Regions from separate parts of the Homo sapiens genome. Here regions 2, 3, 4, 5, 6 and 7 are each reported to be linked to region 1. Evidence: microRNA targets listed by miRTarBase, many of them from high-throughput screens and not tested one by one. Region 1 holds a microRNA gene; each other region holds the end of a gene's coding sequence. Distances are between the middles of the regions.
The links. The annotated mature microRNA hsa-miR-6832-3p reads ACCCUUUUUCUCUUUCCCAG and lies in region 1 at 1,447-1,466, shown strand. An mRNA with a match to its seed (bases 2 to 7 or 8) in the 3' UTR can be bound and repressed. Matches are read on the target gene's strand: a 7mer-m8 pairs with bases 2 to 8, a 7mer-A1 pairs with bases 2 to 7 and ends in A, and an 8mer does both.

Region 2: the mRNA of RPP40 is a reported target of hsa-miR-6832-3p. The part of its 3' UTR that is shown has no 7-base or 8-base seed match.
Region 3: miRTarBase lists AP5B1 as a target of hsa-miR-6832-3p. Seed matches in the 3' UTR shown: 8mer at 853-860.
Region 4: miRTarBase lists SEMA4G as a target of hsa-miR-6832-3p. Seed matches in the 3' UTR shown: 7mer-A1 at 2,494-2,500.
Region 5: miRTarBase lists SERPINF2 as a target of hsa-miR-6832-3p. Seed matches in the 3' UTR shown: 8mer at 1,182-1,189.
Region 6: the mRNA of HARS1 is a reported target of hsa-miR-6832-3p. The part of its 3' UTR that is shown has no 7-base or 8-base seed match.
Region 7: the mRNA of NPTX1 is a reported target of hsa-miR-6832-3p. Seed matches in the 3' UTR shown: 7mer-A1 at 2-8.

Annotation. Positions count from the first base shown.
Region 1 is chr6:31,632,393-31,636,465 of GRCh38, forward strand. It overlaps MIR6832 (microRNA 6832), which reads left to right and starts at 1,395; the gene lies at 1,395-1,466. PRRC2A (proline rich coiled-coil 2A) reads left to right here. Exons shown (of 31, transcript NM_004638.4): 16 at 1-600; 17 at 987-1,255; 18 at 1,467-1,597; 19 at 1,844-1,973; 20 at 2,080-2,165; 21 at 2,361-2,585; 22 at 2,740-2,880; 23 at 3,002-3,073; 24 at 3,190-3,357; 25 at 3,575-3,657; 26 at 3,817-4,027. RefSeq lists a silencer at 2,287-2,450.
Region 2 is chr6:4,991,542-4,995,614 of GRCh38, forward strand. RPP40 (ribonuclease P/MRP subunit p40) reads right to left here. Exons shown (of 8, transcript NM_006638.4): 8 at 3,176-3,735. The coding sequence ends at 3,537. Among named protein-coding and RNA genes, the nearest start is that of LYRM4-AS1, 10 kb to the right of the region's middle.
Region 3 is chr11:65,774,155-65,778,154 of GRCh38, forward strand. AP5B1 (adaptor related protein complex 5 subunit beta 1) reads right to left here. Exons shown (of 2, transcript NM_138368.5): 2 at 1-4,000. The coding sequence ends at 3,702. Among named protein-coding and RNA genes, the nearest start is that of AP5B1, 4.8 kb to the right of the region's middle. RefSeq lists an enhancer at 3,191-4,000.
Region 4 is chr10:100,983,602-100,987,674 of GRCh38, reverse strand. It overlaps SEMA4G (semaphorin 4G), which reads right to left. Exons shown (of 15, transcript NM_017893.4): 15 at 2,059-4,073. The coding sequence ends at 3,544. MRPL43 (mitochondrial ribosomal protein L43) reads left to right here and starts at 178. Exons shown (of 3, transcript NM_032112.3): 1 at 178-362; 2 at 479-585; 3 at 700-1,406. The coding sequence starts at 232. The coding sequence ends at 941. TWNK (twinkle mtDNA helicase) reads right to left here and starts at 132. Exons shown (of 5, transcript NM_021830.5): 1 at 1-132. RefSeq lists an enhancer at 350-419.
Region 5 is chr17:1,753,699-1,757,771 of GRCh38, forward strand. It overlaps SERPINF2 (serpin family F member 2), which reads left to right. Exons shown (of 10, transcript NM_000934.4): 10 at 424-1,567. The coding sequence ends at 836. Among named protein-coding and RNA genes, the nearest start is that of SERPINF1, 6.3 kb to the right of the region's middle.
Region 6 is chr5:140,670,665-140,674,737 of GRCh38, forward strand. HARS1 (histidyl-tRNA synthetase 1) reads right to left here. Exons shown (of 13, transcript NM_002109.6): 12 at 4,015-4,073; 13 at 3,241-3,664. The coding sequence ends at 3,593. It overlaps WDR55 (WD repeat domain 55), which reads left to right. Exons shown (of 7, transcript NM_017706.5): 7 at 1-1,681. It overlaps DND1 (DND microRNA-mediated repression inhibitor 1), which reads right to left and starts at 2,912. Exons shown (of 4, transcript NM_194249.3): 1 at 2,855-2,912; 2 at 2,607-2,724; 3 at 1,781-2,242; 4 at 130-1,086. The coding sequence starts at 2,878. The coding sequence ends at 629. RefSeq lists enhancers at 1,786-2,581, 2,582-3,377.
Region 7 is chr17:80,467,209-80,471,281 of GRCh38, forward strand. NPTX1 (neuronal pentraxin 1) reads right to left here. Exons shown (of 5, transcript NM_002522.4): 5 at 1-3,826. The coding sequence ends at 3,605. Among named protein-coding and RNA genes, the nearest start is that of NPTX1, 7.4 kb to the right of the region's middle. RefSeq lists an enhancer at 717-1,441.

The sequences.
Region 1 (4,073 bases):
CCGAAGGAGGCGACATGGGAGGGCTCAGCAGCAGGATAAACCGCCTCGTTTCCGGAGGCTGAAGCAGGAACGGGAGAATGCCGCAAGGGGGTCTGAGGGCAAGCCCTCCCTAACCCTTCCAGCCTCCGCTCCTGGACCTGAGGAGGCCCTCACAACAGTCACAGTGGCCCCAGCACCTCGCCGGGCAGCTGCCAAGTCTCCTGATCTGTCAAACCAGAACTCAGACCAAGCCAATGAGGAATGGGAGACTGCATCAGAGAGCAGTGACTTCACCAGTGAGCGCCGAGGGGACAAAGAGGCACCCCCACCAGTACTGCTGACACCCAAGGCTGTGGGAACTCCTGGGGGAGGTGGAGGTGGAGCCGTACCAGGTATTTCAGCCATGTCCCGCGGAGATCTGAGCCAGAGAGCCAAGGATTTGAGTAAACGGAGCTTCTCAAGTCAGCGGCCAGGCATGGAACGGCAGAATCGGCGCCCTGGCCCAGGGGGCAAGGCTGGCAGCAGTGGCAGCAGCAGTGGAGGAGGCGGTGGGGGTCCTGGAGGAAGGACCGGGCCAGGACGAGGCGACAAGAGGAGCTGGCCCTCTCCCAAGAACCGAAGGTGGGTAGGAACAAACAAATTTATTGTGGTTTAAAAATTGGAGGAGGGGGAAAAAGCCTGAGGGAAAGATAAGTTTGGGTGGAGTGGAGATTGTGGCCTGAGGGGCCATGGGCTCTAGAATGTCAGTAGGATTTCCATGTCTGGCTAAGGCAACTGGAAAGCGGTTGGTAGGGTGTTAGAGTCAAGAACACCCACCTATGTATTCATTGCTGGTTCTTTGCTTTCCAGTCTGTGCATCTGTATGCATAGGAATCCTTAGAAGGACTCAAAAACACCTGGACTTTAATAGGGAAGAGAATAGGTTGTAAGCAGAAGTTGGGAAACATAACTTGTGGGAAAAAGTAACGATTTAGTGGATACTGGAGCTAATGCTCTGTTTTCTCCAGTCGTCCTCCAGAGGAGCGTCCCCCGGGGCTTCCCCTGCCTCCCCCACCTCCCAGCAGTTCTGCTGTCTTCCGCCTGGACCAAGTTATCCACAGCAACCCTGCTGGCATCCAACAGGCTCTGGCCCAGCTTAGTAGCCGTCAAGGGAGTGTAACTGCACCAGGGGGTCATCCAAGGCACAAGCCTGGGCTTCCCCAAGCCCCTCAGGGCCCCTCTCCTAGGCCCCCAACCCGATACGAGCCCCAGAGGGTCAACAGCGGCCTCAGTTCTGGTAAGCTGGAGGGGTTATGGGTGGGAATATCTCCATCCCCAGAGAAGGTCAAGTGCTGGAGGGAGCGGGTGGAGAACCTGGCCTAGGGACCCTGCTGCTGGGTGCGTTTCTGCAGGGAGCAAGGGTAGAAGAATTGGGAGGTGGAGTAGAGAGGAAAAGTTAGGGTCAGTGGCAGAGCCAGGCAGATGCTGACCCTTTTTCTCTTTCCCAGACCCCCACTTTGAGGAGCCGGGGCCAATGGTGAGAGGGGTGGGTGGGACTCCTCGGGACTCTGCCGGGGTTAGTCCCTTTCCCCCTAAACGTCGGGAGCGGCCTCCCAGAAAACCAGAGCTGCTACAGGAGGTAAGGGATGGGTTTGAGATTGTGCTTCACTGCACTCTTACTCGTGAAAATTCTTCTGGGTTATGTTTTCTCTGTTTTCTTTCCTGTTTCTTTCACTGTGTTTTTACTCCAGAATTCTCAGTATTAGTCTCCCATGTGTCTCCCTTGTTGTCCCCACACCCTGTGTCACCCCACTCTGTCCTGGCTTCCTATAATTCCCAATTCCCACCCAATTCATGTTTTGCTTCTGGCCCTTCTCATCTGTAGGAATCTTTGCCACCTCCTCATAGCTCTGGATTCTTGGGCTCTAAGCCTGAGGGCCCAGGCCCTCAGGCAGAGTCCAGAGATACAGGCACAGAGGCCCTGACCCCTCACATCTGGAACCGTTTACATACTGGTGAGTAAAGCTGAGTGAAAGGACTATGGTAGAAGGGTTAAGAATGAGAGGGGCTTCTGAACTGTCATCTCCTCACTTCTCTTCTGGTTGGTGCTCCCTTCTCCAGCCACTAGCCGAAAGAGTTACCGGCCCAGCTCCATGGAGCCTTGGATGGAGCCCCTGAGTCCTTTTGAGGATGTGGCTGGCACAGAAGTGAGTGAGGGTGGGAGGGTGTGTCTGAGCTGGGACTTTTTTGAGCACTGGTCATACCCCCCACCTGCTCTGGGTTGAGTCTGGAGCTGTTCTCTCACTTGGCTGTCCCCTTTCTGCAGTTTGTATGTGTGCATCAGTCAGGTATTGGGGTGCTTTCTACCCTGACTTAACTAGCTCCTTCTCCACTCCTCTCAGATGAGTCAGTCTGACAGTGGGGTGGACCTGAGTGGGGATTCTCAGGTGTCATCAGGTCCCTGCAGCCAGCGAAGTTCCCCTGATGGAGGACTCAAGGGGGCAGCAGAGGGACCCCCCAAGAGGCCTGGAGGCTCCTCACCCCTGAATGCTGTTCCTTGTGAGGGTCCACCTGGCTCTGAACCTCCTAGGAGACCACCACCTGCCCCCCACGATGGGGACAGAAAGGTAAAAGACCAAAAAAGGATAAGGGGAATGTTTCCAGGAATCTGACTTTGGCCCTACCTTTTTCTGCTTTTTCTCTCTGCGTGTGTGTTCTGGGCATTCCAATTTGGATTTCCCTTTCCCTCCCCCAATGCACTTTACTGTGTGCCCAATCCAGGAGCTGCCCCGGGAGCAGCCTCTGCCCCCTGGCCCCATTGGCACAGAACGATCACAGCGTACAGACCGAGGCACAGAGCCTGGCCCCATTCGGCCATCCCATCGACCTGGTCCCCCAGTCCAGTTTGGCACTAGTGACAAGGTCTGTGTGGGCTGGATCTGGGTATCCTGAGTTGGGTGGAGAGAAGGGAAGGACTAAAGGTGGGACATAGAGGACACATGTCTGTCACGGGACAATGTCTCCTGCCTTCTTGTGATCACAGGACTCAGACTTACGCCTAGTGGTAGGAGACAGCTTGAAAGCAGAGAAGGAGCTAACAGCATCAGTCACTGAGGTAAGTGGGAGTAAGAGTTTGGTGGAAAGGCCCAAGATTTCTGGGGAAGATTGCTGGGAGTGACCAGGGCGTCCAGGATGCCAGACATCCCTCTCCACGAGGCCTCTCCTTCCCAGGCCATTCCTGTATCACGAGACTGGGAGCTGCTTCCCAGTGCTGCTGCCTCTGCTGAGCCACAATCCAAGAACCTGGATTCTGGGCACTGTGTCCCGGAGCCCAGCTCCTCAGGCCAGCGCCTGTATCCTGAGGTTTTCTATGGCAGTGCTGGGCCTTCCAGTTCTCAGGTAGGCCCCGCTTCCCATTGCATGACCCCTTCAGTGAATAATAATTTTTTTCTGCCTGGTATGTATTTATAATCAAGCCTTTCTACGTTGCAGAGTTGTGAGATACCACTTTGTCACATCATTTTTCTCCCTACTTTTTGCTTCTATGGGTGGGATGGTGATCTTTTTTCTTGACCACAGATACTAAAGCTGTTTCAACCGTGCTCCTCTCCTGCAGATCTCTGGGGGAGCCATGGACTCTCAATTACATCCAAACAGTGGAGGCTTCCGCCCTGGGACACCCTCACTGCACCCTTACAGGTAAGACTCGATGCCTGTGGATCACAGAAGTACTTGGAGATGTGTTTCGGGGAGAGGGAAGGGGAAGACACAGTTCTAGGGTACTAGAAGCTAGTGGACTTAAGGCATTGCTAGGACTCTGGCTTCCTAACAGCTTTTCTCCCCACAATTTATTTTCAGATCACAGCCCCTATACCTACCCCCCGGCCCAGCCCCTCCCTCAGCACTGCTCTCTGGGTTAGCTCTCAAGGGCCAGTTTCTGGATTTCTCCACAATGCAAGCTACAGAGCTGGGGAAGTTGCCGGCTGGAGGAGTTCTCTACCCTCCACCTTCCTTCCTCTACTCTCCGGCTTTCTGCCCCAGTCCTTTGCCTGACACATCGTTGCTTCAGGTAAGAGGGGGGCAGGTATTAGATATTGGGGGATAGGGTAGGGAGA
Region 2 (4,073 bases), 27 Mb from region 1:
AAATTGCTGAAGTCTACTTTATTATTCTTATTGATTTTCTGCCTACTTGTTCTGTCAATTATTGAGGGTGGGGTATTAACGTCTGATAATAGTGGGTTGATCTATGTCTCCTTGAAGTTCTAGTTGTTCTTGCTTTATGTGTTTTGAAGCTTTGTTATGAGGTGTGTGTTGTCAGTATGAAATAACTTTCTTTAATCCTGGGTGATACGGTTTGGGTCTGTGTCCCTGCCCAAATCTCATGTCAAATTGTAATCCCCAGTGTTGGAGTTGGGGCCTGGTGGGAGGTGATTGGCTCATGGGGGTGGATTCCCCCATTTAGTGCTCTTCTAGTGATAGAATTCTCACAAGATCTGGTTGTTTAAAAGTGTGTGGTACCTCCCACACCCCTCCCTCCTGCTCTGGCCATGCTTCTCTTTCACCTTCCGCCATGATTGAGTTTTCCTGAGGCCTCCCCAGAAGCCAGGCAGATGCCCACTGTGCTTCCTGCACAGCCTGCAGAAACGTGAGCCAATTAGGCCAGGTGTGGTGGCCCATGCCTGTAATCCCAGCACTTTGGGAGGCTGAGGTGGAGAGATCACGAGGTCAGGAGTTCGAGACCAGCCTGGCCAATAAGGTGAAACCCTGTTTCTACTAAAAAAAGAAAAACAAACAAAAACAAAAAAACGAAACAAAAAAAAACTAGCCAGGCATGGTGGCGCATGCCTGTAATCCCAGCTACTCAAGAGGCTGAGGCAGGAGAATCATTTGAACCCAGGAGGTGGAGGTTGCAGTGAGCCGAGATTGCGCCACTGCAGTCCATCCTGGGCAACAGAGGGAGGCTCTGTCTCAAAAAAAAAAAAAAAAAAAAGAAGAAGAAGAAATGTGAGCCAATTAAACCTCTTTTCTTTATAAGCTACCCAGTCTCAGATATTTCTTTATGGCAGTGCGAGAATTGACTAATATGCTGGGAATTACTTTTTGCTCTATTTTGATTAATATAGCCACTTCAATTTTCATGTAACTAGTGTTAGCATATCTTTTTTCCATCCTTTAAGTATTTGTATCTTTCTATTTAAAGTACATTTCTTGTAGGCAGAATATAATTAGGTCATGTTTTTTTCAATCCAGTCTGAAAATCTATGCCTTTTAATTGGTGGTGTTCACACTATTCACATTTAATGTGATTATTGATATGCTTAGGTTGAGTCTCTCATCTTGCTACTTGTCTTCGATTCATCCTAACTGTTCTTTATTCCCTTTTACCTCTTTTTCTGTCTTCTTTTTGATGAATCAAGTTTTTAAAATAATTCCATTTTATCTTTTGATAGTTTAATAGGTATGATTTTTTGGTATGTCATTTTAGCAGCTGCTTTAGGGTTTACAGCACATATCTGTAACTTATCACACTCTATCTTCAAATGGTAGCACGTCACCTTGTGTATGAGAACTTTACAATAGCATGATTCTCCTCTCCTAATCTTCAAGCTATTGTGGTCATCCATTTTACTCTTACATATATTATAAATCCTACACTATGACTTTTATTTAAATAACTGTCTTTTAAAGAGGTTTAAATAATAAATGCTACATTTACCCATGTTGTTACTATTTCCAGTGCTTATTTCCTTCAGAAGGCAGGCATTTTCCTTCTGCCCAAAGGACATCCTTTAACTTTTCTTGCAGTGCAGACCTGTGGGTGACAGTCTTTCAGCTTTTGCAAATTTGAAAAGATCTTAATTTCTTCATATCCATTATTCTATTTTCAGTGGCGTCTAGTCTGCTGTTAAACCAACCAGTGGAATTTGCAATTTCAATTATATTTTTCATTCCTAGATTTGTTTGGCACTTTTTACAATCTGCTTCGTTGTTCTTATACTCATGCCATTTAACCCTCCTTATTTCTGTAAGCATAAAGCATACTTTATGGATGTGCTTGCTAACTTTAACATCTTAAGTCTTTCTGAGACTTAACGGCCTGCTTCTGCCCCTTGTTTCTGCTGGTTCTTGTCTATTTTACACTTGTGATTTTTTTCTATGAACTTACATTCCTTGAAACTCTCCGAGTTCCTCCAAAGACAATCTGTTTTGCTTCTGCCAGTTACCTGTAAGGCAGTAAAATCCTGTTATCACTTGAAATTTCCCTCTTGAGATTTTTTAAGACTATCCAGGTGGTGCAAACAAGCCACCCTAAAAACTGCTGTTATATATAAATCCTGTGGTTATATATAGGCTCTCAAGTAAGATGTTTTCCCCCAGGACAGAAATCTTCCTTGCTGTTCACAGGGGTTGGGGGGATGGGTGAAGCAGATGGATTTATTCCTAGTTTACCCCTACATTGCATCTATCCTTTTGGAGTCTCACTTTATGAGGTCTCCTGTTAGTTTTCCTCCCTTGGGCAGGCCCTGAGCTTTGTGTGCTGTTCTGCAGCCCCTTCCCACCCCAGGCTATGAGAAGAAAACTTCAATTTGGCATTTGGCAGATGCACTAAGGCGGAAAAGTGGCGTCAGTACTCCACTTACTTCTTTGGGTTTCTGCTTCCATTTACAAAAAAAAAAATTTTTTTTTCCCTTTAAGAACTCTTATTTTGCAGCTCTTGTTTTTTACATTAAAAAAATGGTTCTTCAGACAAAAAACCAAACACCGCATGTTTTCACTCATAGGTGGGAATTGAACAATGAGAACACATGGACACAGGAAGGGGAACATCACACACCGGGGCCTGTTGTGGGGTGGGGGGAGGGGGGAGGGAGAGCATTAGGAGATATACCTAATGTTAAATGATGAGTTAATGGATGCAGCACACCAACATGGCACATGTATACATATGTAACTAACCTGCACGTTGTGCACATGTACCCTAAAACTTAAAGTATAATAAAAAAAAAATGGTTCTTCATATGTATTCTAAAGTTTTAGTTGTTTTCAACTGGTCCTTATCAGCCTTACTGCTGGAAATAAAATTCTTTCAACCTGTTCTGTAACGATTTACAGTATCCATTGATCCCTCTCTGATCCAGAGGCATTAGCGTGAGAACACACTTAGGAACTAGGCTGGCCTGAGATCAAGTCTCAGGTCCACTGCCACTATAACTTCGGTAGTGTATTTACACACTGTGCCTCAGTTTCCTCAAAGGGTTGGTGTGAGATTCTAACATGGTAATATATAAACAGCACTTACAACAGGGACTGGCCCTGGTAAGGATGAGATTTCTTTTTATTATCTGAAAAAGTTGTAATGAACAAAATATATCTCAACCAATGGAGTGAGATGGGGACCAATATCCCCGGTCCCTGGACATCCTGGCCCAGTGTACCACATAGTAACCCACAACCCTGTGCTTATGTTGACAGAGAGAAATCAACTATGAGCTATTCACTGGACAGCAGGCCTTGCTGCCATCACAGATGGGTCTCAGGTGCAGGGCAGGATGCCAGCAAATGCTGATCTGAGAAATGTCACCATCACACAAGCCTGAGTGGACACACAGACCTTTTACCATTAAGAAATCTGAAAGCAAGCGTAAATGTAAGTAAACACGATTTTTAATTTTTATTTTTTATGGTGGACAGTGATCATTTGCCCCAACAGCCATCTGAAGCCAATAGTCCTGATTATTAAAAATCACAAAGTTATATAAATGTTCTCCTCCTTTTCGAAAACCATGTTCATTTTTTTCCCAAGAAACAGGGCTGTCTGCAAAGCCTTGAACGGACAGTGTAACCCATGGAGCTAACTTCGGTTCATCAAAGTAGTGACTGAAAAAAAGGTAGTTGTTAAACAGAGTTTTAAAAGAGAGTTAGGAATGTCTGCATTTTAAAAAATTTATTCAGGATAAGTAGTATTTCTGATATTCTAATAAAGCTTAGATCTTAGCTTTAATTTTTGAAAATCAAGAGGTGTGTGATAAGTTCCTGATGTCACACTGTGAACTCCATAAGGATTAACTAATATACAACACATGAAACAAACCTCAGCTGTTCCCACCCTCATTCTGGGAGGTCTTTAAGACAAAAAGAACCCAAAACAAAAAACCCCACAGGCGTTTAAGGATCCTTTCCCTCCTATTAAGAGTACTGTTCTCAGAGTCTCAGTT
Region 3 (4,000 bases), not on the chromosome of region 1:
GTTTTAAGTTTTTTCTGAGATTCCCTCGGCCACGAGGTGGCATCTGTTCAGTCGGTGGGGTTTTAGGATTTTTAGTTTACATAACTGATTTGATAATCCAGGGCATTTGTTACAGCGTATCCAGGTGAGATTATGACTCAACTATTTAGCACCTCCATCTCAACATGTACTTCCCCAACGGTCATGGCAGAGGAAGAGAGGGCTGGAAAATTGAGCACTGGCAATGACATATTTTGCCCCAAAACTGACCCCTTCACATTTCTTTTTTCTTTTTTGAGACGGAGTCCTGCTCTGTCATCCAGGCTGGAGTGTAGTGGCCCAATCTCAGTTCACTGCAACCTCCACCTCCCGGGTTCAAGCGATTCTCCTGCCTCAGCCTCCTGAGTAGCTGGGATTATGAGCACGCCACCACACCCGGCTAATTTTTGGATTTTTAGTAGAGACGGGTTTCACCATGTTGGCCAGGCTGGTCTCAAATTCTTCACCTCAGGTAATCAACCCACCTCGGCCTCCCAAAATGCTGGGATTACAGGTGTGAGCCACCGCCCCCGGCCCTTGACTCCCTTCACATTTCATTAGCCAGAGCTGGGCTTGTGGCCAGACCTGCCTTGAAGGAGGCAAGGAAGGGTATGTGAACATGAGCAACGTCCACACAGGTGGACAAGGTGACCCGTGTGACTTTGGTTCCCTCTCTTTAGGAAGAATTTTTGGTTGTACTTGGGACAGTTACAGGCATGCTGCTATTGCCATGATCTTCGGGAAGCTGAAGTGATGAGCAGCAGTGTGTGATTCTGAGGACACAGAGGGCTGGGGTCTAGGAGCTATCTCAGGTGGGCTCAGTCAGTGCCATCCTCCCTTTTGGTGCCTCCCTAGAAGTGCTGAGAAGATGCAAAACCAAAAGCTTTTACTCCAACATTGCTTAGCCAAGCTAAGCACATGCATTCCCTATGATTCAGCAATTCTGCTCCTAGCATGTATCCCAGAGAATTGTCCCATGGGTCCATAGGGGCATATAAGAATGGCCATTGCAGCAAAGTTCTGGTTGGGGTAGGGGGAGCTGAAAGTCATCTGGTGTCCACAACTGGAGGAATGGATGGATAAAATGGGATGGATGCACAAGTGGGCAGACAGATGGGTGAAAGGATGGTCAGTCCTTACATGGACCAGTTTCCTTATTCTTAGGCTAAGGATTAGCATCTCCAGGCAAAAAGAAAACGTTTCTGGATTCCCTTGCCACTGGAGTTCCGTGGAAGAGAGAAATGGAGTCCACTAATGAGGTGTCCTTTGAAGGATATGGATGGAGGACACAGGGCCAAGGAAGTTTGCTCTGCGGGCCCAGCCTTGGAGATGTTCAGTCCTTCTGCAGCAGCACCACGCTTCTGGCTTTGTGGGTGTCAGGAGGCAGGAGTGGCAGTCCCACCCCATGTCCCAGGGCCCAAGCCCAGCTTCCTGGGTGCTTACAGGGGATGGCAGGCAGGACAGTACGTTCTGATCCCAGCTCCAGTGGGAGCTTCCTGGAGGCGACTTCTCCAGCCTTCCCATGTACTTTAAGTACCCTGATTCCCTTAAATCCCCTTCTGCCAAAAACAGCTGGAGAAGTTTCTGTTTCCTGAAACTGACCCCTTCCTGATTTGGAAATGACTTGCCGAGGTGACAAAGCAAGTTATTGCCACATCTCAAGTTTGAGACAGGCCTCCTGACTCCACCTATTAACAGTACCACTGTCCCAGGCCCTTTCTTTTTTTTCTTTTTTTGAGACAGAGCCTTGCTCTGTCGCCCAGGCTGGAGTGCAGTGGCGTGATCTCGGCTCACTGCAACTTCTGCCTCCCAGGTTCAAGTAATTCTCCTGCCTCAGCCTCCCAAGTAGCTGGGATTACAGGCGCCCGCCACCACGCCCGGCTAATTTTTGTATTTTTATTAGACACAGGGTTTCGCCATGCTGGCCAGGCTGATCTCAAACACCTGGCCTCAGGTGATCCACCCGCCGCAGCCTCTCAAAGTGCTGGGATTACAGGCATGAGCCACCGCACCCAGCCCAGGCCCGTCTTTCCTCTCCTAGTCTGCCCCAATCGGAAGGATCAGGAGGCGTAAAGCTGGCCCATGGGGAACCTGTGGCTGGGAGCCCATGAGGCAGGGGCAGCAGAAGAGGGCAGAGACGGTTGGGACCTCTGTGGCCCTGGCTGAGGTCTGCTCTGATGGCATGGTAATGGAAACCTGCTACCAGATGACAAAACACTATTACCAAACAGCTGGGTGACCTTAGGAAAATCACTCAACCGCTCCTGCCTACGGATTTCCTCATCTGCGGGGCCCTGCAGAGCTGTTGCAAGGATGAAATGAGGCAACGTACATGTGCCTGGCAGCACAGCTGACCCCACACAGCTCAATCCTCAGTGTTTGCATGTTTGGGAAAAAAAAACAACAACTAGAGGAACTAGTTCTTCTTACCTGGGAAGATTCCTAAGCACAAATTAGGTTTCTTAGGGGCTGAGATTAGAAAAAACTTGGTCTCAGACCCTAGACCTTATTAGCAGGCCCTTCCTAGAGCTGGCTCTAATCGGCACAGCTTGGGAAGCTCTCCACCTGGCCACTGCTGTCTTTCTGTTTCTGGCTTAGGCCCACTGGCCTGCCTGGCGTGAGCTCCCTGGGGCAGGGAGCTTGCAAACCTTGGGAGTTGAGAAGCGCTGGCTCGGCCAGGTGTGGGGGCTCACACCAGTAATCCCAACACTTTGGTGAGGCTGAGGCAGAAGAGTCATTTAAGCCCAGGAGTTCGAGACCAGCCTAGGAAACAGGGAGATCCTGTCTGCAAAAAATACAGTGGTGACTCACACCTGTAGTCCCAGCTACTCGGAGGCAGGCTGAGATGGGAGGATCACCTGAGCCTGAGAGGCAGAGTCTGCAATGATCCCTAATCACACCACTGCACTCCAGAGCGCCAGAGTGAGATCCTGTCTTTAACCCCTCCCCGAAAAAAAAAGAAAGAAAAGTACTGTCCAACAGGTCAGGTCCACACTCTAGCTTCAGCCTTCTTCCTAAATCACTGAGTGGCCTTGGGCAAGGCCAGACCCTCTCTGGGAAGCAGAAAGGAGATTTTTCCCCTGCCTCCTGGGCAGAGATTCTGGAGAGCACTAGTGTGTCTGGGTGAGAAGGAACTCTGTAGCTCTACAGTGCCGGGTTCTGTCTGGAAGCCTTCTTGGGGCCTATGACCCTGCTATGGTTTGAATGTTTGTCCCCTCCCACGCTCACGTTGAAATGCGATTGCCACTGTAACAGTATAAGATTAGACCCTAAGAGGTGGTCAGGCCACGAGGGCTCTGCCCTCCTGCGTGGACTCAGGCCGTTATCTTGGGAGTGGGTTCGCTCTCTCCCCTCACTCCTGTCACTCTGTCCTCTGTCATGGGAAGATGCAGAAGGGTCCTCACTGGGCTCTGGGCCCTCCACTATGGACTTCCCAGCCTCCAGAGCTCTGAGCCAATACATTTCTGTTTATTATAACTTACCCCGTCTCAGGGATCTTGCTAGAGCAGCAAAAACAGACTCAGACAGACCCTCACCCCCAGGAGCCTGCTCCCAACCGGGGCCCAAAAGAAAACAAGCCAGCGAGGGCACTGCGGAATGCAGGGTTTTGGCGACAGAGCTACAGGAGTGTGCCTTGGCCCCCACAAGGGCCACAGTCCTGCCCCCACCTGGTCTCCCGGGGCTCAGACAGCAGCCGCCAGCCCACGGAGGTAGTCCCCCGCCAGGGGCAGCACGGCCCAGTCATCGGTCCGCAGGGCCACAGGCACTCCATCTGCCAGGGCCGCCTCCAGCCGCAGCAGCAGCTTTGAGTCCGGGGGCAGGTGGATTGCTACACAGTAGCTGGTAGGAGGCTGGGCCACCACCACAAAAGGCTCCAGGTGGCGGGACACCAAGCCCTCCAGGCCCTGTGGCCCAAGTGGACACCACACACGACTCTCAGCACCCTCTGGCAGGCAGGAATCCCAGAGCTCCTCAAAGAAGC
Region 4 (4,073 bases), not on the chromosome of region 1:
GTGTCTTCACTCCGCTCTACTACTCCGAGCTCCGCCGCGCCGGCCCCCAGCCCCAGGTTACCACTTTTCTCTCTCCCACTTCGCCGGCAACGTGAGTCTCCCGCACATGCTACTCGCCTTGACCTCGGAAGCAAAACTCCGGGAGCGGTCGTCCCGGAACCGGAAGCCTCGAGGTTTAGTCCCGCCCCCCTCTCCTCGCTGCTTAGGCTCCGCGGCCTCCAAGCTGTAGCTATGACGGCGCGCGGGACTCCGAGCCGCTTCTTGGCCAGCGTTCTCCACAACGGACTGGGTCGCTATGTGCAGCAGCTGCAGCGTCTGAGCTTCAGCGTCAGCCGCGACGGCGCCTCGTCTCGCGGCGCCAGGTGAGCCAAGGGAAGTGCGCAGGCGCGGGTCGGGGTGGGTGTGGAGGTGGCAACGACTCCCCGGGTAGGTCGCCCCCAGTCAGGGGTCATACTGCTCACTGTCCCGGGTCGCTTAGGGAGTTCGTGGAGCGGGAGGTGATCGACTTCGCCCGACGGAATCCAGGGGTCGTAATATATGTAAACTCGCGTCCGTGCTGCGTGCCCAGAGTAGTGGCCGAATACCGTGAGTGGGGCCGGGCTCGGGCTGGAGGGCGGGATCAGGGGCTCGACCCGCTATCCTCCTTCTCGCTTGGTCGCACCGGCCAGCTTCCACCCACTCTCACCCCTCTTCTGCCAGTTAACGGGGCTGTGCGCGAGGAGAGCATCCACTGCAAGTCGGTCGAGGAGATCTCGACGCTGGTGCAGAAGCTGGCCGACCAGTCGGGCTTGGACGTGATCCGCATCCGCAAGCCCTTCCACACCGACAACCCTAGCATCCAGGGCCAGTGGCACCCCTTCACCAACAAGCCGACCACGTTCCGCGGGCTACGCCCCCGAGAGGTTCAGGATCCTGCCCCAGCCCAGGTGCAAGCACAGTGAAGAGTTGCCCCACCAACTGCAGCCCCAGGCTTTGGACTGTTACTCCGGTAAAGGTGGTTCTTCCCCTTTGGGATTCCAAGCCCAGGCAAATGGAACCCATCAATGGGCAAGTTGACAGAGGTTCTGCTTGGGATAATGAAGAGCTGCCTGTTTCTTTCCAGTGCCTGCTTCTGGGGGCAGTGACCTTGTGAACCACTCATTTTTATGCAAGTGGCATCCCTAAAACCTGAGATGAGGAAGACTTCAAGGGTTTTACAGGGCCCTTGTTTTTTAAATCCAAATTGATAATAATGATCTCAAAACACAGTGAGAGGTCTGAAGGCTGGCTTCTGAAGAATCCCTGATGTCTTATTGGAACAACCACTGAGCTACGGAGAGCTCTGCTGTGATGGGCTAGGCACTTTATATCTGTGTGAATACAGATTTATAAAACAGGTTAATAAACTTATCCAAGGTCACATTTCAGGTCTGTCTTCAAAATGTGTGCATATGTTAAGCACAAGCCTCAGTTTTCATTATTTTAAAACTAGACGCAGAACATATAACAACTGTCAGGTGGTTAGTATCAAAGGCCAAGTGATTAATCTAGGCCTGACCCCTGAAAGGGAGAGGGGAGTGATTCTCAGACCAAGTCCTGGCTGACAAGCTTTCTCTGGTCTTAGCTATACATCTCCTTCCCCCCACGTCCCTCTTTGTGCAGAAATAAAATCCATGTCCCTTGAGCCAGCTGGTGGGGGGTGCTGAGAACCTTGGGGAAGGGCAGGAAGGCTGATATTAATGAGTATTTTCTAATCTTAGTTTAAAAAGGGGGGATGGTGGGGAAATGAGAGGCAGGAAATGAAAATCTAGAAACCCCTGTAAGAATTCTTGAACTGTTGTCATTTTCTTGTCATGCCCTAACACCATGATCAATGAATAGTGTGAACCTTACTAAAGAGGCCTGTGTGCCTGCCAAGGAGTCAGGATGGAAGCGGAGGATCCCAATTTCCTCTGCAAATAGTTGTATTGGGGAGCAGAGCCAATCCTGGAGGCAGATATCACCTTCTGTATAGGCTCAGGAGCCTGTCCCCTGGTGATCAGGGGTGGGCGCATCTAGATGAAGCAGACTAGTCATAGCTGTGGGGAAAAAGGGTGTTTATTAACCAACGGCAGGGGGAGGAGCTGAGCCCAGGCTCCCCACTCTGTCACATGCCTGTTCCACCCACCTGGTTGTAAGTGGGGGCATTCCTAAAGAAGTGTAGCCATTCTCACAATAAATACATTCATTGTGGGGTGGAGGTGGGAGAGGTTGGGTGAAGGGCAGTAAAAACCCGTGGGATTCCACGTTCTCAGCTACAAAAATAACAGTCATCCTCACCCGAGGGGAATGGGGGAGCTCAGTCAGAATTGATTGTCCCATATAGGCCTAGAGACTTCAGAGGCCCCTGGCCCCTGAAAGTGCCCCGGTGAGGTAGGACAGGGGTAGGAGCTAAGCGTCCAAACTCCCAGCCTCTGCCCTTTGCATAGTTCCAAGAATGGGCTTCATGTGCCAGTTGAGACATCAGATTTCTCCTCCCTTTCCCTGCTGTAGTCTAGAGGAAGCAAATGCTTGATTCCCCCAAAAGAGAGGCTGGCTCATTGAGTGCAGTGTTGGTCATCCATCCTAGGCAAGGGCCTGTGAGGACAGTTAAATGGGAGGGGGATCTCCCTCTGAAATGTCCACGGACTAAACCCAACAGACAGGTCCAAGACAGCAAGGGAGGCTCAGAGGTGCATGTGAGTGGAAATGTAAGCACATGTGTGATACAGGTGTGTGTTACCACATGTGCATGGGGATGGGACATGCCTGGAGCTCTGTCTCTCATACTCTTGAGAATGACCAAGGAGAGTGGGGAGGCTGATTCACAAGGGCCACACAGGAAGGGAGAGGAGGGGAGTGATGCAGTCTTACCTCCCCAGGCTGGCCCGTTCCCAAGCTCTTGACAAAGAGGTCACCACATGGGGCTGGGGAAGAGGACCAGATAGGATGTGGCAATTGGGAGGGTACCCCAAGTCCAGAAGCAGGGATGAAACAAGAATGCACCAGGAGAAGGTGAGGGTGGGGGCACTGCAGCCCAGCCGATAAACATTCTTCCATGTGTGCATGTGAATGTACGCAGGGCTTAGGTGGCTGGCAGAGGTCTTGTCTGGTTTCAGGACCATCCAGCACACAGGGCCATGCAGAGGGTGGTGACATTGAGCCCATATGGACCTGCAGAGCCCTGCCTGGGAGAAAGAGAAAGGGTTTGGGCAGATGAATGGAACAGGAGGATGGAGTCCTCACCTATAAGTGTTTAGGTTAGGGGATAGGAACTGGCTCTGGGTCTGCAGGGCACCTGATCCTGAGGGAGCACCTACCTCTGAGGAGCACCGATGGGCCTGGGCTGCTCACATGTGGGTCTGTGGAGACTGAGGAGGGGGCTTTGGCTGGGCCTGACTGGCCAGCCCTACAGGGACATCAAAAAGTTGGGAGAAGGGTATGGAGTGGGGGTAATGAAGGGAGGGTGGCTGTGTTAGGGAGGCAGTGGCCCAGCCTGGGACAGATAGGCTGGCTTGGAAGAGCATTTGTTCTGGGAGGCTGGGCTCAGACAGAGCTCTCATCTAGCTGCTCCACGAGCTGCGTGTGCTTCCTTTTTTCCAGGATGCGGCTGAGTTCCTCGGCGAAGGAGCAGGGCCCTGCTGGTACTCCATTGTTGCTCTGCCTCAGAAGCACATAGCTATTGCCATTCATCCTCCGCAGCCGGCTGGGCAGTGCCACCAAGCCATTGGTCAGCTCAGCCGGTGGCGGTGGGGGCGGTGGGGGTGGTGGGGCTGGGGCTCCCTCCCCAGGGATGATCTGGAGACAGCTGCCCTCCAGGCCCCCAGCCCCCTCATCATCACCCTCATCTTCCTCTCCAGGACACTGGCCTGAGACTGTCTGCAGTTGCACCGCAGATCCTCCTGCCCGGCTGGCCCGACCCAGTGAGTATTTCCGTCGGCGCCCTCGTCTGCCTTCCCGCAGACAGGCCACATAGAGGAGGGAGGAGGCCAGGATGAGGCAGAGGCCACCAAGCGCGGCAATGGCTAGCACATAGAGCAGTCTCACATCAGGTGCCAGCTGTGCCCCAGGTGTGG
Region 5 (4,073 bases), not on the chromosome of region 1:
AATAACTAAAATAAATAAATAAAGCATCTATCCTTCAGCCATTTGCTAAGCAGCTGCTGTATTCCAGGCACTGTACCAGGTACCGGGAGCCCACCATGTACAAACAGCTGAGTCTAATGGGGTGGGCAGACGAGCAATCACATACTTACTACAGCATAAGCGATAAGACAGAGAGGGCTTCTCTCCAGCTCACCTGGGAGAACACTGAAAATGTACCTTGGTTGGACTTTAGAGCTGGGGATCAGGGAAGGCTTCCTGGAGGAGGTGGTGTTTAAGCTGAGTCTTGGAAACCGGATAGGAATGAAGCAGGTATCTGTGAGTTCAAGCTGTTCCCTGGCCAGGATCTCAGACACCCTCCCAAGCAGCTCCAGGAGCCTGTGAGGCCAAGGGCAGCTCTGACCAGCCATCTCTGGCCCTGGGCAGGCCTGCAGGAGTTGTTCCAGGCCCCAGACCTGCGTGGGATCTCCGAGCAGAGCCTGGTGGTGTCCGGCGTGCAGCATCAGTCCACCCTGGAGCTCAGCGAGGTCGGCGTGGAGGCGGCGGCGGCCACCAGCATTGCCATGTCCCGCATGTCCCTGTCCTCCTTCAGCGTGAACCGCCCCTTCCTCTTCTTCATCTTCGAGGACACCACAGGCCTTCCCCTCTTCGTGGGCAGCGTGAGGAACCCCAACCCCAGTGCACCGCGGGAGCTCAAGGAACAGCAGGATTCCCCGGGCAACAAGGACTTCCTCCAGAGCCTGAAAGGCTTCCCCCGCGGAGACAAGCTTTTCGGCCCTGACTTAAAACTTGTGCCCCCCATGGAGGAGGATTACCCCCAGTTTGGCAGCCCCAAGTGAGGGGCCGTGGCTGTGGCATCCAGAGTCCCTGCCTGGACCAGCCTCTCCACTCATGTGACTCTTTCCAACCGGCTTTGTGGCACTGGGGCAGGGGCCGGGGGCAGTCTGAGAGAGGCCATTCTTTCCCAACACCTCTTGGGGAGTTTAGGGTGGGGGGGGGGCGCGGCTGGGAGGAGGGCAGGCATCGGGGAGCCGGGAGCCTGACCCTCATCTTTCTTCCAAACAGGCTCAGAGGGTGTCCTGCACCGGGGCCTGGGCAGGAGGGAGGTGCTTCTAGTTCTGCCAGGAGACAGGTTAGCTGCTCCCCACGTCAGCTGGGACACCCCGACTTTTGTTTACCAGAGAAAAAGGGAGGGGGAGAGGGCTGCCTTTGGACTTGTCCCGGGACACCTAGGCTAGGGTGGGGAGAGACGGGCCCTGGTGGTGGCTCGGGAGGCGAAGCGTTGTCCTCAGCCCCGCGTGGAACTCGTGTCTGGCACAGCCTGGCTGTGGCCTAACCTGCCGAGAGTCCATCAGCCTCCATCCTACCCCCTGTGCCTTGTCACGCCAGACTTCCCACGGCTCCTCGAGATCCCAACACTGCCAGCATTTCCCTTCCTTCCTCTCCTGTCTCCCTCCTCTGCCCGGGAGCTCAGGAACCGAGGCAGGGAAGGATCCCATGAGCTCCTTAAGGCTCTTTTGTAAGGTTTTTGTAGTGATTTTTATGCCACCTGAATAAAGAATGAATGGGCCTGGCTGGTTTGATGTCACCGTTCTGGGCATGGGTGGGGACAAGTGAGGATGGTGGGGAAGGCAGGGAGGCGGCCGCAGGGTGGACTGTGCTGAGGAACCCTGGGCCCAGCAGGGGTGGCAGCCCGCGCAGTGCCACGTTTGGCCTCTGGCCGCTCGCCAGGCATCCTCCACCCCGTGGTCCCCTCTGACCTCGCCAGCCCTCCCCCGGGACACCTCCACGCCAGCCTGGCTCTGCTCCTGGCTTCTTCTTCTCTCTATGCCTCAGGCAGCCGGCAACAGGGCGGCTCAGAACAGCGCCAGCCTCCTGGTTTGGGAGAAGAACTGGCAATTAGGGAGTTTGTGGAGCTTCTAATTACACACCAGCCCCTCTGCCAGGAGCTGGTGCCCGCCAGCCGGGGGCAGGCTGCCGGGAGTACCCAGCTCCAGCTGGAGACAGTCAGTGCCTGAGGATTTGGGGGAAGCAGGTGGGGAAACCTTGGCACAGGGCTGACACCTTCCTCTGTGCCAGAGCCCAGGAGCTGGGGCAGCGTGGGTGACCATGTGGGTGGGCACGCTTCCCTGCTGGAGGTGCAGGGGGTCCACGTGGCAGCGGCCACCTGGAGCCCTAATGTGCAGCGGTTAAGAGCAAGCCCCTGGAAGTCAGAGAGGCCTGGCATGGAGTCTTGCTTCTTGCAAACGAGCCGTGTGGAGAGAGAGATAGTAAATCAACAAAGGGAAATACATGGTCTGTCCGAGGATGAGCTGCCGGAGAGCAATGGTGAAAGTGAAGTGGGGGAGGGGGCGGGGCTGGGAGGAAAAGCCTTGTGAGAAGGTGACACGAGAGCACGGCCTTGAAGGGGAAGAAGGAGGGCACTATGGAGGTCCCGGCGAAGCGTGGCCTGGCCGAGGAACGGCATGTGCAGAGGTCCTGCCGAGGAGCTCAAGACAAGTAGGGGACGGTGGGGCTGGAGTGGAGAGAGTGAGTGGGAGGAGGAGTAGGAGTCAGAGAGGAGCTCAGGACAGATCCTTTAGGCTCTAGGGACACGATAAACACAGTGTTTTTTGTCTTGTCAAGTGTGTCCTTTTTATTTTTTTGAAAGAGTCTCGCTCTGTAGCCCAGGCTGGAGTGCAGCGGTGCGACCTCGGCTCACTGCAACCTCTGCCTCCCGGGTCCAAGCAATTCTCCTGCCTCAGCCTCCCGAGTAGCTGGGATTACAGGCATGCGCCACCACGCACTGCTAATTTTTGTATTTTAGTAGAGACCGGGTTTTGCCATGTTGGTCAGGCTGGTCTCGAACTCCTGACCTCAGGTGATCCGCCCGCCTCGGCCTCCCAGAGTGGTGTGAGCCACTATGCCCTGCAGCACTTGTCAAGTCTTTCTCAGCGTTCCCCTCCTCTCCACTGCAGCTCCCAGTGCCCCAGTCTGGGCCTCGTCTTCACTTCCTGGGATCCCTGACATTGCCTGCTAGGCTCTCCCTGTCTCTGGTCTGGCTGCCTTCACTGTAACCTCCACCCAGCAGGTACCTCTTCAGCACCTCCCATGAACCCAGCAGAATACCAAGCCCTGGGGATGCAGCAACGAACAGGTAGACGCTGCACTCCAGCCTGGGCGACAGAGCAAGACTCCGCCTGAAGAAAAAAAAAAGGACCAGGCCGGGCGCGGTGGCTCACGCCTGTAATCCCAGCACTTTGGGAGGCCGAGGTGGGTGGATCATGAGGTCAGGAGTTCAAGACCAGCCTGGCCAAAATGGTGAAACCCCGTCTCTACTGAAAAATACAAAAATTAGCTGGGTGCAGTGGCGGGCGCCTGTAGTCTCAGCTACTCAGGAGGCTGAGGCAGGATAATTGCTTGACCCCAGGAGGCAGAGGTTGCAGTGAACCGAGATCACGCCACTGCACTCCAGCCTGGGCGACAGAGCAAGACTCTGCCTCAAAAAAAAGAATAAAAATAAAAAAAAGGACCAGATACAGAAAACAGAAGGAGACGTACTATGAAGGAAATTGGAGAGCTTTTGGGATACTGAGTAACTCAGGGTGGCCTTTCCCAGGGGACATTTAGCTGAGAGATAGACGGTATGAAGACCTGACCGTTCAGAAACAGGGGAAGAGGCAGCAGCCCGGGCAAAGGCCTTTGGGGCAGGAAAGGGCTTGGATCACTGGAGAAGCAGAAAGATGGCCAGTGTGACCAGAGTGTGACAAAGTCAGAGAAAACCAGGAAGATGGAGCTGGAGACACAGGCGGGGCCAGATCACGAGGGTCCTTGCAGACCAGAGCAAGGGTTTGGATTTTATTCCAAGTATGAAGGGAAGCTGCTGAAGTGTGTTTTCCTTTACAATTTGTAGTTGAAATATAATATGCAAAGTACACAAGTCTTAACTATATGTAAGCTTAATGAATGTTTCCATGAACCAAATACCGCTGTGCAACCATCACCAGCTCAAGAGACGAACCCTTCTCCCTCCTCCTGACTGCCAGTAACATAGTGGTTCAGCTCAAGAAACAGAACTCTTCTGACTTCCCCTAACA
Region 6 (4,073 bases), not on the chromosome of region 1:
ATACCCTACAGTGCAACACAAGAAGATGCACTCAAAGCACTGATGTGAGGAAGTACTTGCCCCGTAGCAGCTATTCACTCTACCAGTGTAAACAAACTCTAAGCTAGGGCAAGACAGCACAGACACAAGTATATACTAACCAGGGGTTTAATATAAATACAACCAGCATAGAAAGACCCAAAACTATACAGAAACCAAAACCAGAATGCCATGTGGTGGAGGCAAAGGGCAGAATTTCTGACCCCTTTGGCTCAGCTGCCCTTCCCCACAAATAAAAACCAACAAAGAGGACAAATCAGGACAATAAAGAAGATTCATGCTAAGCTGTGGCAGAGGGGGGAAGGTATGATCGGGTGGGGGTGGGACAAGGAACGGCCATGGAAGATCACTGGGTCAGGTTGGACCCTGGGCTGGGAGCGGGAGGGCAAGGCCCCTCACCACAACTTAACCCAAACCTAAGCTGCCCCCAGGTGCCATAGGTCCCTGTCCCAGCAGGGAGGCTGATGGGCCTGGGCCCATGCCCCTCCCCACCTTTGGGGGTCAGAAAGTGGCCACCCAGGCCTGCTGGGATGGGGCCTGACACAGGCTCTGCATGCCCATTCAGGGTGCCTGTGGAGAAAGAATGGAGTCACTGTTTAACCATGGTACCTGCCTCAGCCCCAGCAGACCACAGGAGGTTGGCCCCAGACTCACTGAGTGCCTGCAGCAGCCGTACAGACACAGCATCCTTGGCCACCTCATGCCCATCCCGGCCATCTAGGGTCAGCACAACCCAGATGAGGCCGCTGAAGGGCACCGGATGCCCAGGAATCACCACCTGGTACCAGAAGCGGTGCCAGCCAGCAGGTCCTATGCCCAAACACTTGGTGAGGAACACAGGGCTGCCCAGCTTCATTCGTTGGCACAGCAACTGCAGGGTAGCCCGAGCCCCTTGGAACCCTAACTTGTCCCTTGCCAAAGCCAACTGGCTGCCCTCTGGCTGTGGGGACCGCAAGAAGGGACCCACAAGCTGCTGGCGAAGTCGCTGCTTCAGGTCTGGCTTGAGCCACTCCACAGCCACCTGCTCTCCACAGAGGTGTGACTGCCCTGTAGGAAAAATGCAAAGACAAGGGCAGGTCTAAACCCTGGGCCCAAGCCTCCAGGTGGTGAGCCCTTTGGAGCTACACAGTCCTGTTATTTGTAGCCTTCCCATTTCCTGGTAGTGTGACCATGGGTAAGAAAAGACAATGAAGCCTTCAGCCTCCATTATTTGCAAAGGGAGTATAACACACTGCTACCTTACAAGTTTCCTTGGAGAAGTACTGGTTAATTGCAGGCTTTGTCTGCCTCATAACCATCATAATGGCTAATCTTTACTGGGAAAACTTGCTGTAAGTCAGTCAGTGTGCTAAGTACCGTACACCCATTATGTTACTTAATTCTCATAACAGTCTGAGGAAACAGATTCTATAGTAGTAAAAAGCTCAGTTGGATTCCCTTGAGCAAATCAATTTCTCTAACAGTTTCCTCATAGCTTGAGGGTCCTGTGCCTATTTTGCGGTGTGGGGGTGGGGGAAGGTTGAGAATTAAGTCAGGAGGTAATGCTCGGGAAGTGTCACAAATTTAGGTAAGCGGTGGTGGTAGCACCATTGGAAGTTTTAAAAATCTGAGATCAAATAGTAAAAGGTTGCAAATTCTGGCATGTTTGACTCTAAGATCTTGTAACTTTAACAGCTATGCTCAGTATAAAGTGCCGGGCAGAACGCGTTTGGCCCCAACCAGCACCCCCGCCCCAGCCTACCTTCCACCAGGGCCTTTTTGGCCATGGCAGCGGCCCGGTGCGAGCTGAATTTGAGCAGAGCGATCTGCCCGGGCGCCGGTCCGGGGCTGGGCAGCAGCCGCGCCTCCTGCAAGCCGGGACCCAGCGGCTGCAGCGCGAGCAGCAGCGCGCTGCGGGTCAGATTCGGCGGCAGGCCGTCAACGCTCAGCTCACACTTCTCGGTGCTGCGGCACACGAGCAGCGGGCAGGACGGCCGCAGCGGATGGTTGTGCAGCGTGGCGATGGCGGCCTGCGCGCCGCGCCTCGAGCTGTAGCGGGCATAGGCGAAGCCGCGGTTCAGGCCGCTGAAGGTCATCATCAGGCGGAACTCGTAGAGGCGGCCCACGCGCTGGAACAGCGGGATAAGCTGGTGCTCGTACACGTCCTGAGGCAGCCGCCCGATGAACACCTCTGACCCAGCTGGCGGCGGGCTGCCCACCCAGCCTGTGGGAAGAGGGTATGCAAGGCCACCGTCAGGCGACGCTTTCGAATTCTGAGCCCACGGACCCAGCGCGCGGGGGTGGGAGGCGATGTGAACAAAGGTCTGTGAAATGGGTTTACACCCGTACCCTGGGTGGTTGGCATAATTAGGTGACTGCGCTAACAAGGGGGCTGGCACAGAGTAGGTACACCTTGAGATTGGCCCCCTCCCTCGACGGGGCGGGTGGACGTGGAGCCACAGTTCCTCCTTTGCTGGGGGGTATAAATCCGGGTAGTTCGCAGTTTCTGACAGTGAAGGCTCGGAGCAGCCCCTCCCCCAAAGGGGGCTGGTGTAGCCGGACAGGCGGAGGGGCTGGGACTACCGTACCTGGGGGTGGCCCGCCATACTTCCTCTGCCCGTTCACCTGCACCAGGCGGATGCCTGTCTCCCTGACCCACGCCTCCAGCGCCGCCTTGTTCTCTGGATTCACCCTCTCACACCACAGCTGAGAGGGAAAGGAAGGTTGGAATGGCGGATCGCCAAGCGCGCCCCCACCTCTCCTGTGGTACTGGGGTCCCTAAAGCCGACCCCCGCTCCGGCGGGGCTCGCCGGCCCCCAAGTCGCCAGCCGCTTACCTCACAATCCCGCTTGGACTGCATGGCTCTCCAGCTGGCCCCCTCGTACCCTCTTTATAACTTCCTCCCCACCGGCCTCTGGAAGCTTCCCTACCCCTCCACCCCGCAAGCTCTCATTGGCTCTGAGCGCGACCCCGCCTCCCAGGGGGGTGGAGGTATCCACTGCACGTGCGCCGCCCGGGCTTCGCTCAGACCTTCAGGTGAAAGCTGCAAAGTCGCGGGTGCGTATGTACGGGGGCTGCCTCCCGAGGAGGAGCTCCCAAGCCGCAGGGTGGACGCTGGAGACAAGAACCTCAGGGTCACAAGTTTACTGTTTTTCTCCCTTTTCCATCCCTACATTGGTCTGCTGGGGAAGGCGGGGCTAGGCATCACTGACACACGCAGACTCCGTGGTTGAGGCATTTTATTGGACCTTTGGCAATTGGTGGTGGGGAGGCATCTGCTCCAACTGGTGCGGGGCCCTGCAGATGGGACCATCTCAGGCTGGGTCCTTGTAGCCCAGGAGCACAGACTGGACTAAGCCTCCTGGGCCTTGTATGAAAAAGGTGTTGTACCTGGCCGTTTTTGCCAGTAATAATCAATAAAATAACCATAATAAAAATCAAAGGCTCTGTTCTGACCACTCTTCAGGTCTTCCGCTGAAACGGAAAAGTGCAAAGCAATTGAAGTACATATGCAGTTTGTCTTAACCTCAAATAGTGCCAGTCCCACTTCCTTTCCTCTGATAGTTTGTTCAGTTCAGCAGATGCAGAGGGGCTGGCCTGTTCTCCTTTTGATTTCCTCCACAAGGTCTTCTCTTCGGACATCCACCTGGCCAGGATGGGAGAAGAAGGTGGTATAAGCATCTTCCATTCCACTGCTCCCCGAGTGCCTAGTTTCCTCTAGCCCTCTAGGCATCAGGCTTGTCTCAGCTGGGAGCAGGAACCTAATTAAACACCTCAGGCTAGAGTGTGCCTCTTGGGGGAGCCAACAAACCATAAGGTATATGCAGGGATGGAGATCTCACCCTACTAAGACCACAGTAACAGGTTAAGCCCTCAAGGCTTTTATGAGTTGTACTAATATCAATGCCAGGCTTTTTCTCAGGTCTTGAATGGGCATGGGCCTGCCAAAATGGCATACATTCTCTGTCCCTTAGCCTTCCTGCCCACCTCCCTCACCTCTTCCCTGCTCGTCACTGAACGGAGCTTGATGACCCCATCCTTGAGTTCCTGCTCGC
Region 7 (4,073 bases), not on the chromosome of region 1:
TTCCCTTTCAACAAATTGCACTTCAGTCCACTGTGTACAGAAGTAATACATTTCCCATCGTTAGTTGAATAAATTTACACACTGTGTTTAAGAGATGAAACCACGACTTCGTCAAGCCACATTTGGTTGCCATAAGATTCCAAAGGATTCTATCCTCTTAATGTGAACCACATGTAACCCAAGGTTCTTCTATCAAGGTTAGAACTGATATTCAAATCCTCGGCTCATTCCACTTAGTAAGTCAGCTCCAAGACACAGGTTCACCATAAATGGCCAGTTTTACCTCCTGGTCCCCAACATGCTTTTGAGAACAGGTGGCCCCTCTTTGGAGCTCACTGGAATGACTGAACCTCATGCCAGCCTCTCCTCACCCCCTCACTGCCCACAAGACACCCCCTTGGTCTCAGGTCCCAGGGCTGGTGACAAAGTGATCTTTGCAGTCTTAGAAAATAAACTGGGAATCTACAAAAGGAAAAGAAAGCATACAAAATGTATCTCTTTCTTCCAAAATACATGCTTTCAGTTCTACGTTTTGGTGGAGCCTGAAAGTATTTTCAAGGGAGATATAGGTTGAGTTAATTTATAGGTTTGTCCTTTTCTTTCATAAAAATACTCTTGTTTGGTAATAAACTTTTTCTTCTACAGTAAGAGAAATAATACTGTGTTATCAAAAGCAAGAAGGCTTACGACTCAAGTGGGATCTAAGCCCCTGAGGGCCCGGAGAGCTTCTGTCAACAGCTCTCCCACCCCGGACACCCAGGGAGCTGTCGGACACCAGCTCGGCAAAAGCAAACACTGCCTCAACAGTGCTTTTTATCTTCTTGTTTTATAAAATGGCTTACCTGAGAGAGGCATGTATTATTCAGTGCAAGAGGGAACATCAATCAGATTAAGGAGTAAATGGGAACTACGTGGATTAGATTTGCGGCTGTGTCATCGACCTTTCTCGGGGCCAGCAAAGTGCCAAGTGTCAACACAGTGAGGGAGTCGAGGGGCTTGGCTCAGACCCTAGCAAGGGGCAGGAGGGAGCTAAAGGTCAGCTTCGGCCCTGGCACCATGGGTGGGTCAGAGGAGGGGTGAGGAAGGTGAGCGGGCCAGGAGGCTGCAGGGGTGGAGGCGTAAGCACTGGGGTGTGCTCTGCCCCTCGCTAGTCAGGGCAGAGGATGGCTCATGGTCCTGAACGGACAGCTCCCACCTGGCCCACGGGGGCAGAAGGTGGTCTGCGGTCCAGTAGATCGGCAGGGGCGGGGCTGGCCGGAGGTGCTGGCAGGGGAGCACCCCACACAGCCCGCACCGGGCGTTGCCTACACAAGGGCTCCGAGATGGCTGGAGTGAGGGTGGGGCTAGATCTGGTCTAGAGAGGCGACTCCAAGCTCTCTTGCTGGCTCCCAGCTGTGGGAATCCTTTAGGCTTGTTCTCAACCTACACGTTAAAAATGCTTCTTGGTGTGTTTGGGGAGGGGGAGAGGGAAACTGAGCTCTCTCTTGACCTCCTCCAACACCCTTGACTTGCTTACCCAGCCATTTTCAGTAGCTACACGGGTGGTCACAGAACACTGGGCGGCACTCGGCACACAACACAGAACCGGGGCAGTCCATGCAGGTGCGGGAACACATGTCGGACCCAGGGAGCAAGGAACACGCCACCCCGAGGAACATGCAAACGGAGAAGATCCCTGCAGATCCAAGGATGCCACAACCCGACGGGCGCTGAGGAAGCACGATTATCTAAGAAAAAGCCACTGTTGAACAACAACGCGCAGCACGGCGCCTGATCTGCACCCCCCTCTGCGGGAGTGATGCATTGCAGAACGGCGGCCGGGTACCGTGCAGACACCCACGAGAACACTGACACAGAGACACTGACAGACACACACAGATGCACTAGGTTCTTGACACAACGTGGACCTGTGTTTAAGGGGACAGGTGGCCCTAGAAGGAACAGAAGACAGAAACACCTGCTCCTCCTGCAGAAATGTCTGCAGCTGCAGCTGAGCCAGGCAGTGCAGTAGAATTTCTAGAAAGACTTGTCAGCGGTTTGCTGATGAGACTCCTGGAGACAGAGTCGGGGTGCCCTCAGGGCGTGCGACCACCAGATGGTGCAAAGCAGGAAGCTCCTCCTACCCTGGGCAGGGCCTCCCGAGCCTGCTCTCTTTCTCACTTAGCGCACACACACACACAACACACACACACACACACAAATGCACATACACTTCTCTCCCCTCCTTGGAAGGACTAGAAGGAAATGTCCATGTTGCTTTTCACGGGGAACAAAAAAAGGCAAAAAGGTTCTGGACACTGCTCAGGTGTCAGTGTCGCCGGCCAGTGGCAGCTTGTGGGCTGCTGTAGGCCGTGAGCCCCATGAGATGGAGGAGTGGGTTTCAGGCCCCTGCCCTGGCCAGGCCTGGCTCCACACGTGAGGTCTCTGGAGTACCCCTGGAGGGGTCTGAACCAGCTCACCTGGCGCCTGGTGTGCTGGGAGGGATATGGCTGTCAAAGTCCCCCAAAAAGGACCTTCCCACCGATGGGCTGGGTTGAAGTCCCAGTGGCCCCATGTGGCCAGGTCTTCATCGAAACACGGCTTCTTTCCTTAAAAGGTCCCCTCTGGTCTGCACTGCCGGAGGCCAAAGGAGAGGGGTGCTGGGGCCCGGCTTCCCGGGCTGTGGGTGGCACGCTCCTCTCTCAGGGCCCTCTGGGCTGAAGCAGTGCAGCACAGCTCCAGAGGTGAGAAGGGAGGGGCAGACCCCAGCCTTGCAGGATCTGAGGAGGTGGGAAGGTCGAGGGCAGGGCCGTCCTGGGGCAGAGCTAGCTGAGCTGGGCACACAGGCCGACCTCCCAGGCCCCATGCTGCTCTCAGATGCAAACAGCAGGGATGGATGCTGTCTGGCCCTGGGGTAAGGGCCAGTGTCCTCAGCCATCCCCTCTCCTCCACGGGAGAGCACAGGGTACCATCCCAGGACGGCCTGCCTTCACCCTTCAGAGACAGTTCACTTCTATTACAAAATAAAAATTCTCTGTAGAGAGCCCCCGCCCCCGGCCTTTGACAAACCACTAAAAGACATTTATTACATCAATATAAAGATATGTCGCTCTGAGAAAGGTTTGCAAACAAAGACAAATGCGTGTACTGAGGTTGCACCAACCCCAAAGCACGCACGCAGCTAACAAAGTTGGCAAATATGAATTTTCATCATGAGATTTTTCCAAAGCCAGAAGAAAGAAGGAAATGAGGTACGTCCTCAAAGAAAAGGCCTCCCCCAGCCACGCACGCACACACGTAGACACACACATGTAGACACGCACACACAGATCCTCTCACCAACTTCTGCCTTGTTCAAGACGTTGCAGCACCCACTTCAGCTGTGAATGGGGCATGCCTGAGAGAGTCCGGGCTCCTACAGAGAAGTGGGGCTTCCTCAGGGACAGATGGGAGCAGGGGCTGCTTCGTGTGCATGAGGACAAAACCAGGCTGTGTGCGTGTGCGTGTGCAGGGGCGACGGCCTCGGTTCATTCCTGGGGAAAAGGGAGAGAAGAGACGCACAAAACAGATCATCGCCGCACAAGCAGGGGGCGAGGGCGGGCGGGCTCAGCCTGGCCTGCCGTGCTCAGTTGATCTGGCGACAGGCCTCGAAGGTCCACTTGGTGGCCCCTCCGTAGATCTCGATGTGGGATTCAGCCCAGGCGATGACATTGCCGGACAGAGCCTTGGTGCTGCAGGTGGCCAGGTTGTACACCTCCCCGGGGGTCAGCTTGCGGTCCCAGATGTTGAAGTGGGCCAGCTCACCCACAAATGCCTGGGTGGCATCAAACCCACCACCCAGAGTGTCCTTCAGAGAAAAACAGAGGATGAGAGTGGAGGGGTCGCCAGGTGGTCTGGGGGCCCATCCCTAGGCCGGGGATCTGAGTGCCTCTGTGCCTGCCCGATCACGGACTCTCACGGACACTCCTAGGTGCCGTTTCGTCTCCCTGTCCCTGACTCTCCAGCCCTACATCCATCCCTCCTCTGGGGGAGCCCAAGAAAAGGGATGGCACCGACCACCTCTGCCCTGGAGCTTCTCCTGGGGGGACCTGGAC